2 linked regions of the Homo sapiens genome follow. The gene in region 1 interacts genetically with each later gene. Each region holds a gene or a part of one and is shown in the gene's direction. Other genes may lie near its edges.

Region 1 (4,582 bases):
AGGCAGTTGACTTACATGCCAATCAGCTTGATTTTGTTAGGGTGTGTTTTGTAGCTAAATTGTCTCTACTCCTAAGGTGTGGCCTTTCTACTAAATATCACAGAGTGTTTAGCTTGTTCTCTCCTCTCTGGCTAGGCAGAACTCAAACATTTCCTTGCTCTGTGCAAGCTCTGTTATTTCTTCAACATGCAATTGCAGGGTAAATTTTTTTTCCCCAGGTATGGTAGGCTGGAAAATGGTCTCCCAGATAATATCTAGGTTTTCATCTCTGAAACCTGTGAGTGTTACCTTATGTGGCAAAATTTACCTTGCTGGTATATGAGTAAATTACAGATCTTTAGATGAGAGATTATCCTGGATTATCTGGGTGGGCCCTAAATGTAATCACTTTTCCTTATAAGGAGGAGAGGTGAGGAAGATTTGACACACAGAAGGCCTTGTAACCGTGGAAGCTTCTGGAGGGATCCCAGGCCTACTAACATCTGGATTTTGTACAGAACTGTAGGAGCATAAATTCTGTTGCTCTAAGCCACCAATTTTGTCAGCTTAAATTTGTTACAGCAGCCACAGGAAGCTAATGCAGCAGGTGTTCTCCCAGAAATCATCTCTCCAGCAGTTACTTTTTCCCTAAGTCTAAAGACTCATCCTGCACATGTGCAGCTTCATGGTCAGCCAAAGATTCAAGGGAACCCAGTATGCAGGTCCTGAATTCCATAGTGTAGCTCCCTTTCAGTGGTATCCTCACCCAGATATTCCAGCCACCACCATAACCCCAAACTTCAGTTTGTGCCTTTATTTTTTTCAACTAAAGCCCCAATGAAACAGTTTGTCTCTTAAGCTCAGCAAGACAGGGTTTTGTGTGAGTCCCCCACTCCCTGCTCCACAATCTGGAAATTGCCTCCAGGCAGAAAGCTCCGCATTCATGGGGTCTACTTCATTTGATTTTCTTCTCTCAGGCATCACAGTCATATGCTTGGATTTGTTCATTATCTGAAAATGGTCATTTTATATTTTGTCCTGTTTTATATAATTATGGTGCAGGAAAGCTAGTTCCATACCAATTACTCCCCTACAGCTAGGGATGGAATAACCTGCTTTATTTTCATCCATTGTGTGATATAAATGTTTCATGTTTCATTCATTATTTGGCCCCTCTTTCTATAGACTGTAACCTCCAGGAGAGCAGAGGCTCCTTTTTTTTCTTTTTTTTTGGAGGTGAGTGTTTGACACTGTCACCCAGGCTGGAGTGCAGTGGCACAATCTTGACTCATTGCAACTTCCACTTCTGGGATGCGAGCAGTTCTCCTGCCTCAGCCACCTGAGTAACTGGGACTACAGGCATCCGCCACTGTGCCCAGCTGAGGCTCTTTTACTGGTGGCTGTTTCCGCAGTTTGATTTAATACACACAGTTTGGTTTAATAAGTGTTTGTTGCATAAGGGAATCTTTATGAGAATCAGAGCCTACTCCGGCAAACAAGCCTTAAAAGCCACATGTTTGCTTTCCTGCCATGCTTTAGGGTTTATGGCCAGGCTGGAGATAGATATGTCACCTTGGATTTACGGTCATGTGGTGGTGACTCAGCAGAGAAATTCTGCTGCAGACAGAAACATCCTGGTCCAGGGAACGCAACCTGCCCCAATGCCATCAGTGGTGTCGTGCTCAGCCCCGTCAGCAGCAACAGTGGTTTTCCTAGGGTCATTCTCTAGCATGATTTTGGTTCTGGTGCAACCACCTAGCGACCGTTATTTCTGCCCGTCTTCCAATTCTGCCCCTTCAGCCTTCCCGGTGATTCTGAGATGCCCAGTACAGCTGGCTCTTTGTGTCACAGATTTTGATATCTACAAGGGGTCCTGGAACCAGTCCCCCTTGGAAATGAAGAGCCTACAGTGTTCTTACAGTAAATTCCTTCTCTGCTGAAGTCATCCAGGGTCAGCCTTTGGTGTTTATAGCTAAGAGCTCTGACTGATAACACTGTTAAAGCTGCTCAAGCCTCTGATTTCCCACTACTTCTCCTGGATTTGTAATAAGAATTTGGTGGGGGCCAAAATCTCAGAAGTCACCACTAAAGAACTTATCCATGTAACCAAAAAACCACCTGTTCCCCAAAAACTATTGAAATTTTTTGAAAAAAATCTGTGTATAAGTGCACCACACAGCTCAGACCTGTGTTCAAGAATCAACGTAAATGCAAGTACAAAAAAGACTGGAAGGAAATATTCAAATATACTAACAGTCCTTTTTATCCTCTTGGTAAGGAGCTTACAGGCAGTTTATAAACTCATACTTTATTCTGCTTTCCAAATTACGTTCCTTAAAATGTGCTGCTTTGATAATTAGAGAATGGAATTTTTGAAATCCCTGAGAACGAAAGACAAAATATGCCAGAAACTTTATTAAAATGATTTGGAGTAGTGTGTCACTGTATACTGTATGTGTATTTTTACATACATATTATTTCCTTTCTGAAAAAGAATTGGAAAAAAATATGGTGAGGGGATGTAAACACAAAAGAAACTTTGCTTCAACTTTGGCAAATTCAAGTTTATTGTCAATACTTTAGATCTTTATATTATGTAGATATTTATGCAAATTAAATGTGGTGTTTAAGAGAGGCTGTGCCTCTAGCTTGCTGCTCTTGTCTCCTAATGCCTTTGCTGACCAAATTAATCAGATTTTATTTTTAACCCTAAGTTAGAAATCTTACTGTATTTTTACTTCATTCTACTGAGAACCATAGGTTGATTATTTTTTTTATTCAAAGTGTTGGCTTTTGTTTGCTGTGCTTTATATATGGAGAAATGCTATTTTTATTTTCCCATTTAGGAGTTTCATAATAGAAGAGCAGAGTTTCTTACTATGTGAAGATCTTCTCTATGGAAGAATGTCATTCAGAGGATTTAATCCTGAGGTTGAGGTATTAAATATAATTGCTTCAAATTAAAAATTTTTCCAATTGAATTTTTTTCTGCTAATAATTGGGCTTAGGTGTTTCTCCACCAGGTACCATTTCTACTCATTATATAGAAAATAACAAGTCTTGAAATATCGCCATAGCTATTTAAAGAAATTGGAGGCATTGCAGTCTAGTTTTATGGTAGAGGTGAGTAGATAATTTCATATAGCAGTATACAGCCCTTGACAGAGCCACCATAAATATTAAAATTTCAAGTTGTGTCTTTTACAGGAACGTCAAGATTTTATTCATATCATGCTATTATGAAAAGTTATTTTCTGGCACCTATACATGTATTTTTTCTAACGGAAAAATGTTACTTTAGAATTATGTCATTTGACTTTTTAATGGACTGTTGTAATCCAAGCTTGTAAGTAGATTTTTAAATGAATCCTTTCGACAGTTTGTTTGAAAAATGAATATTTGCCTTATAACTGAGCTATTCATTTGAATTTTCCTGCTCCAGGATAGAGAAGCAGACCTTTATTTAACAAATATTCATTAGAACTCTGGCTCATATGTTAAAAGCCATCCTATCAAGTACTTGATGAACCAAATGGACACATGAGATATAAATCTTTAGTTTGGTAAATATTACTTGAAGCCAGTGTTTCTTGCCCTTGGCAGTGTTAACATTTGGGGCCAGATAATTCTTTGTGGTGGTGGCTTTCCTAAGAGAATGACGAACCACATCCCTGTCCTCTGTTCTCTACCAACTAAATATCAGTAGCACACACACACCCCACCCTCCTACCCAGCTGTGACAACCAAAAATGTTTCCAGACATTTTCACAGGTTCCCTGGTGGGGAAAATCATCCCCAGTTAAGAACCACTTCTCTAGGAGCCACAGTTAACTAAGCCAATTGCCAGAGTTTATTGAAAGATTCTAGGTTAGTTTTCCTTTTCTTTTTTGGCGGAGTGGGAGGAGGCATGTGTGATAATTAAGGTGTTATGTTAGAAGTGTTTGTTTTTAATATATGCTGGTCTCGCTTTGACTTTCTTTAATTAAGCTTCAGATTGAGAAGGAGAGGGGCTGGGCAGTGGGGTGAAGAGGGAAGAAAAAGGCAGGGATTATGAAGATGTGGTATTCAAAGAGTAGGGTTTGGATAGGCGAGCATTCCAAAGTATGTCTGCTGCAATGGGAAAGGAGAGGTGCCACTGCCCGCAGAAATTGATGGGGGGCAGGGACGGGTGTTAGAAAATGGCCCTAATTACTGGATTCTGAAACACTGAATACACTCCCCCTAGGAAAAGGTTTTAAACTATTATCACTCTTTTAAGCCTTAGAAAAACTAGTTAAGACTGATTTCTCATCTTTTATTCCTTCTCCTCTTGCTAAAAAGAAGAGATTACACATTTAAAAAAAAAAAGGTCAGAGGATAATTATCACAAAAAGGTTTATGTGAAAGAGTTGGAGGAGAGACCCTGTGGTGCATGGATGTTACATGGGATGCATTATCCACTCTAAAGTTTAGGAGGGTAAGGCTGAGGTGCAGATTCCCTCCATTAAACAGGGCCAGCCTTCCACTTCTCCCACCTCCTCCACTCACCACCACCACCACCAAGAGATGCATTTAAAATTATTACTGACGACTAGTGTTTCTTCCATATGGCTTAAAGATGGGT
Region 2 (3,500 bases), on another chromosome or scaffold:
TGGTTTTTAACAGACATGATAAAAATGTAATTAGATTTGAGGTTAGGAAAATCGTAGTATTAAATGTTAGAGTGGTTCTGTTTATTTAAAGTATGTGTTCTGTTGTTAAACGACCCACATAGTATTTCAGATGTTTGGCTTAAATTTTCTAAAATATATTTTTTGTTGACAAAGTACAAGGAGTAACTGCGTGTTTTAACAGCAAGAAAAAATAATTTGTACACAATGTTACTTTTCCTGATAAATAGCCACTGGTTGTAATCAGTTAGGATTTATTTTTATTTTAAATTCACTATCAGGTTTGGCAAATACGTGTAGACCTACATTTATTAAATCATGATGGAAATATTATTGATGCTGCCAGCATTGCTGCAATCGTGGCCTTATGTCATTTCCGAAGACCTGATGTCTCTGTCCAAGGAGATGAAGTAACACTGGTAAGCTCCTATGTGAACCAGGATCCTTGATATGAATGAATGAGGAGGGTCTTAAATGTGCAGGCAACTTGTTTTTAGTGAAGTTATGTTGTAGATGGCAATTGGGTCGTTTCTAAAAATTTGTTTGTAAGACTGAAACTGCATATGGTCAAAATTGCCCTGGAAATCTCTTAACCGTTCCTCTGTTGAAACATTTGTCAGTAAGAACATACCCTAGCCTGGTTTTCCAGAATAGAATTAGATGACTATTTTGGATTGAACATTAGATGAAGTGGTTGACTTATGTTTAGGGGCCATATGTGTGAAAAATACATGAATCTCAGCACAGTGAGATGCTTACCCTGCAAGAGGCATGCAATAGCTGAAAAGCACTGAGGAATCAGCAGGTTCATATTTGTCTCCAGGACTTTTGTTCATTAGGCAAAGAGATGACGAAAGTCCATCAGAAATACCTGGAGGGCTTGTTAAAACGTATAGCCAGACTACTCCCAAAGTAAAACAGGGCTAGGACTTAAGATTTTGTACTTCTAACTTTGAGTTCTTAGGTAATACTGATGTTGCTGGTCCAGGGAGCACATTTTGAAAACCATTGACCTACGTTGTCTTTATCTTTTGTTCTGAGTATGTCAGTTTTGATTTATATAAATTACATGCTAGAATAGTGAAAGTGCACTGTAGTTGTAGTTTGAATCCTGAAGTTGCAAAAGGACACATCAGATGCCCAGATTTTCTAAGCAATGATTCATAATTTTGATTTTGGGCAGTAGACTGAAGCAGAACCATTAAAAAGTGAGAAATAGGGACAAAGGTTTATTAACAGTAGAGGTAATATTCTTTTAGAGGAGGGAGTTTATATAAGGAAGTGAAAAAAAGTAGAAAGCGATTACTACACTTGAAAAATCAATTAAAGAATACTGTGGTGTTATTGCTAGTGGGAATGTAAAATGGTACAGCCATGTTGGAAAAGTTTGGTAGCTTAAGTTTTAAGTGTAGACAGCATTCTATATTCAGAAAAATAACAGTAGAAGAAAATATTCTTTTTTTTTTTTCTTTTTTTTTTTTTTGAGACAGGATCTCACTCCGTTGTCCAGGCTGGGGTGCAGTGGCGTGATCTCGGCTCACTGTAACCTCTGCCTCCTGGACTTAAGCAATCCTCCCACCTCAGTCTCCTGAGTAGTGGGGACTACAGGTATGTGCCACCCACTTGACTAATTTTTGTATTTTTTGTAGAGATATGGTTTCACCAAATTGCCCAGGCTGGTCTCGAACTCCTGGGCTCAAGTGATCCTCCCACCTTGGCCTCCCAAACTGTTGGGATTACAGGCATGAGCCACCATGCCCAGCTGAAAACACTCTCTTATATGTACATCTTTCAGCAGGTTTGACCTTGTAATTTTTTTTTTTTCTTTTGAGACAAAGTTTCACTGTTGTTGCCTAGGCTAGAGTACAATGGCGTGATCTCGGCTCACTGCAGCCTCCGCCTCCCGGATTCAAGCGATTCTCCTGCCTCAGCCTCCCAAGTAGCTGGGATTGCAGGCATGTGCAACCACGCCTGGCTAATTTTGTATTTTTAGTAGAGACAGGGTTTCTCCATGTTGGTCAGGCTGGTCTTGAACTCCCAACCTCGTCCACATCGGCCTTCCAAAGTGCTGGGATTACAGACGTGAGCCACTGCCCCCAGCCGACCTTATAATGTTAAAACAAACTGCAATGGCTTAAAATTAGAAAAAAAAAAAAAAATTCTAGCAATTCCATGCCTAAGAATCTACGGGAGGAATAAGAGCTTACTACGTTCAGAGACTTCAATGCAAGTGTTCATAGCATCATTTGTTAGCCAGAAACTGGAAACAATCCAAATGTCCAGCTGGTGAATAGATAAAATGTCATATATACAAATAATGGAATGCTGTTCAGTAATGAAAAGAACTGAACTACTGATAAATGCTGCAAGGTGCATGAAACATGCTAAGTTGAAAGAAGCCAGGCACAAAACATTACAACTTTTTTTTTTTCCATTTATATAGAATGCTCAGAAAGTCAGATTTATAGAGACAGAAATAAGATAGATCAGTGATTCCTTGGGGCTAGGGTGGGAGTACACCAGACTCCTACGGACTACAGACAGATTCAAAGGAATTTTGGGGAGTAATGGAAATGTTAAAAAACTAGATTGTGGTGATGGGTCCGTAAATGTATCCATAACTATACATTTACTAAAAATTGAATCATATACTTAAAATGAGTGGATTTTGGCTGGGCGTGGTGGCTCACACCTGTAATTCCAGCACTTTGGGAGGCCAAGGCAGGTGGATCACCTCAGGTTGGGAGTTCGAGACCAGCCTGACCAACATGGAGAAACCCCGTCTACTAAAAATACAAAATTAGCCGGGCGTGGTGGCACATGCCTGTAATCCCACCTACTTGGGAGGCTGACATAGGAGAATCGCATGAGCCCAGGAGGCGGAGGTTGCCGGGAGCTGACATCTTGCCATTGCACTCCAGCCTGGGCAACAAGAGTGAAACTTCATCTCCAAAAAAAAAAGTGGATTTTATGGGATGTAAATTATGTGTCAGTAAATTTTTGAAAAAGCTTTTTGAAAAAGTTGTACAGTTTGAGGAACGTGAGTGGCAAAATCAAACTGGTAATTAATTAAAAGAAGTTATTTAGGTACTCAAAAGAATAAAGGAACTTCATTTTTTAGTATTTGATGTGCAAGATGATTTTTTTGGATGTTCATAACTTAGTGACTATAATTATTAAACATTTTCTTTTGAAACAGTATACACCTGAAGAGCGTGATCCTGTACCATTAAGTATCCACCACATGCCCATTTGTGTCAGTTTTGCCTTTTTCCAGCAAGGGTAAGCCTCGCCTTATTATGGGCCAAAATTACAAATGCAGCTAGGAATTTTATTGCTCTACTCAAGTATGTCATGTTAATATTAAACAAACACTTCCCTTAATAGTAAAGCACCTTGTATTTCCTTTCTTTCTTTGTAAGGGCATTAGTTGGCAAAGAACTTTCTCAGTAGAAGTAACAAAACTCTTATACTTTGATGAA

What was found. A genetic interaction does not mean that the proteins touch.
Region 2: changes in MPHOSPH6 (region 1) and EXOSC9 together harm fitness more than expected from each alone (negative genetic interaction), as found in Homo sapiens cells (one large-scale study listed by BioGRID).

Annotation. Positions count from the first base shown.
Region 1 is NC_000016.10:82,149,758-82,154,339, reverse strand, and holds part of MPHOSPH6 (M-phase phosphoprotein 6), read left to right. Parts: intron 1-2,825; coding exon 2,826-2,916; intron 2,917-4,582. UniProt on the Homo sapiens protein: RNA-binding protein that associates with the RNA exosome complex. Involved in the 3'-processing of the 7S pre-RNA to the mature 5.8S rRNA and play a role in recruiting the RNA exosome complex to pre-rRNA; this function may include C1D.
Region 2 is NC_000004.12:121,804,323-121,807,822, forward strand, and holds part of EXOSC9 (exosome complex component RRP45), read left to right. Parts: intron 1-299; coding exon 300-437; intron 438-3,217; coding exon 3,218-3,300; intron 3,301-3,500. UniProt on the Homo sapiens protein: Non-catalytic component of the RNA exosome complex which has 3'->5' exoribonuclease activity and participates in a multitude of cellular RNA processing and degradation events.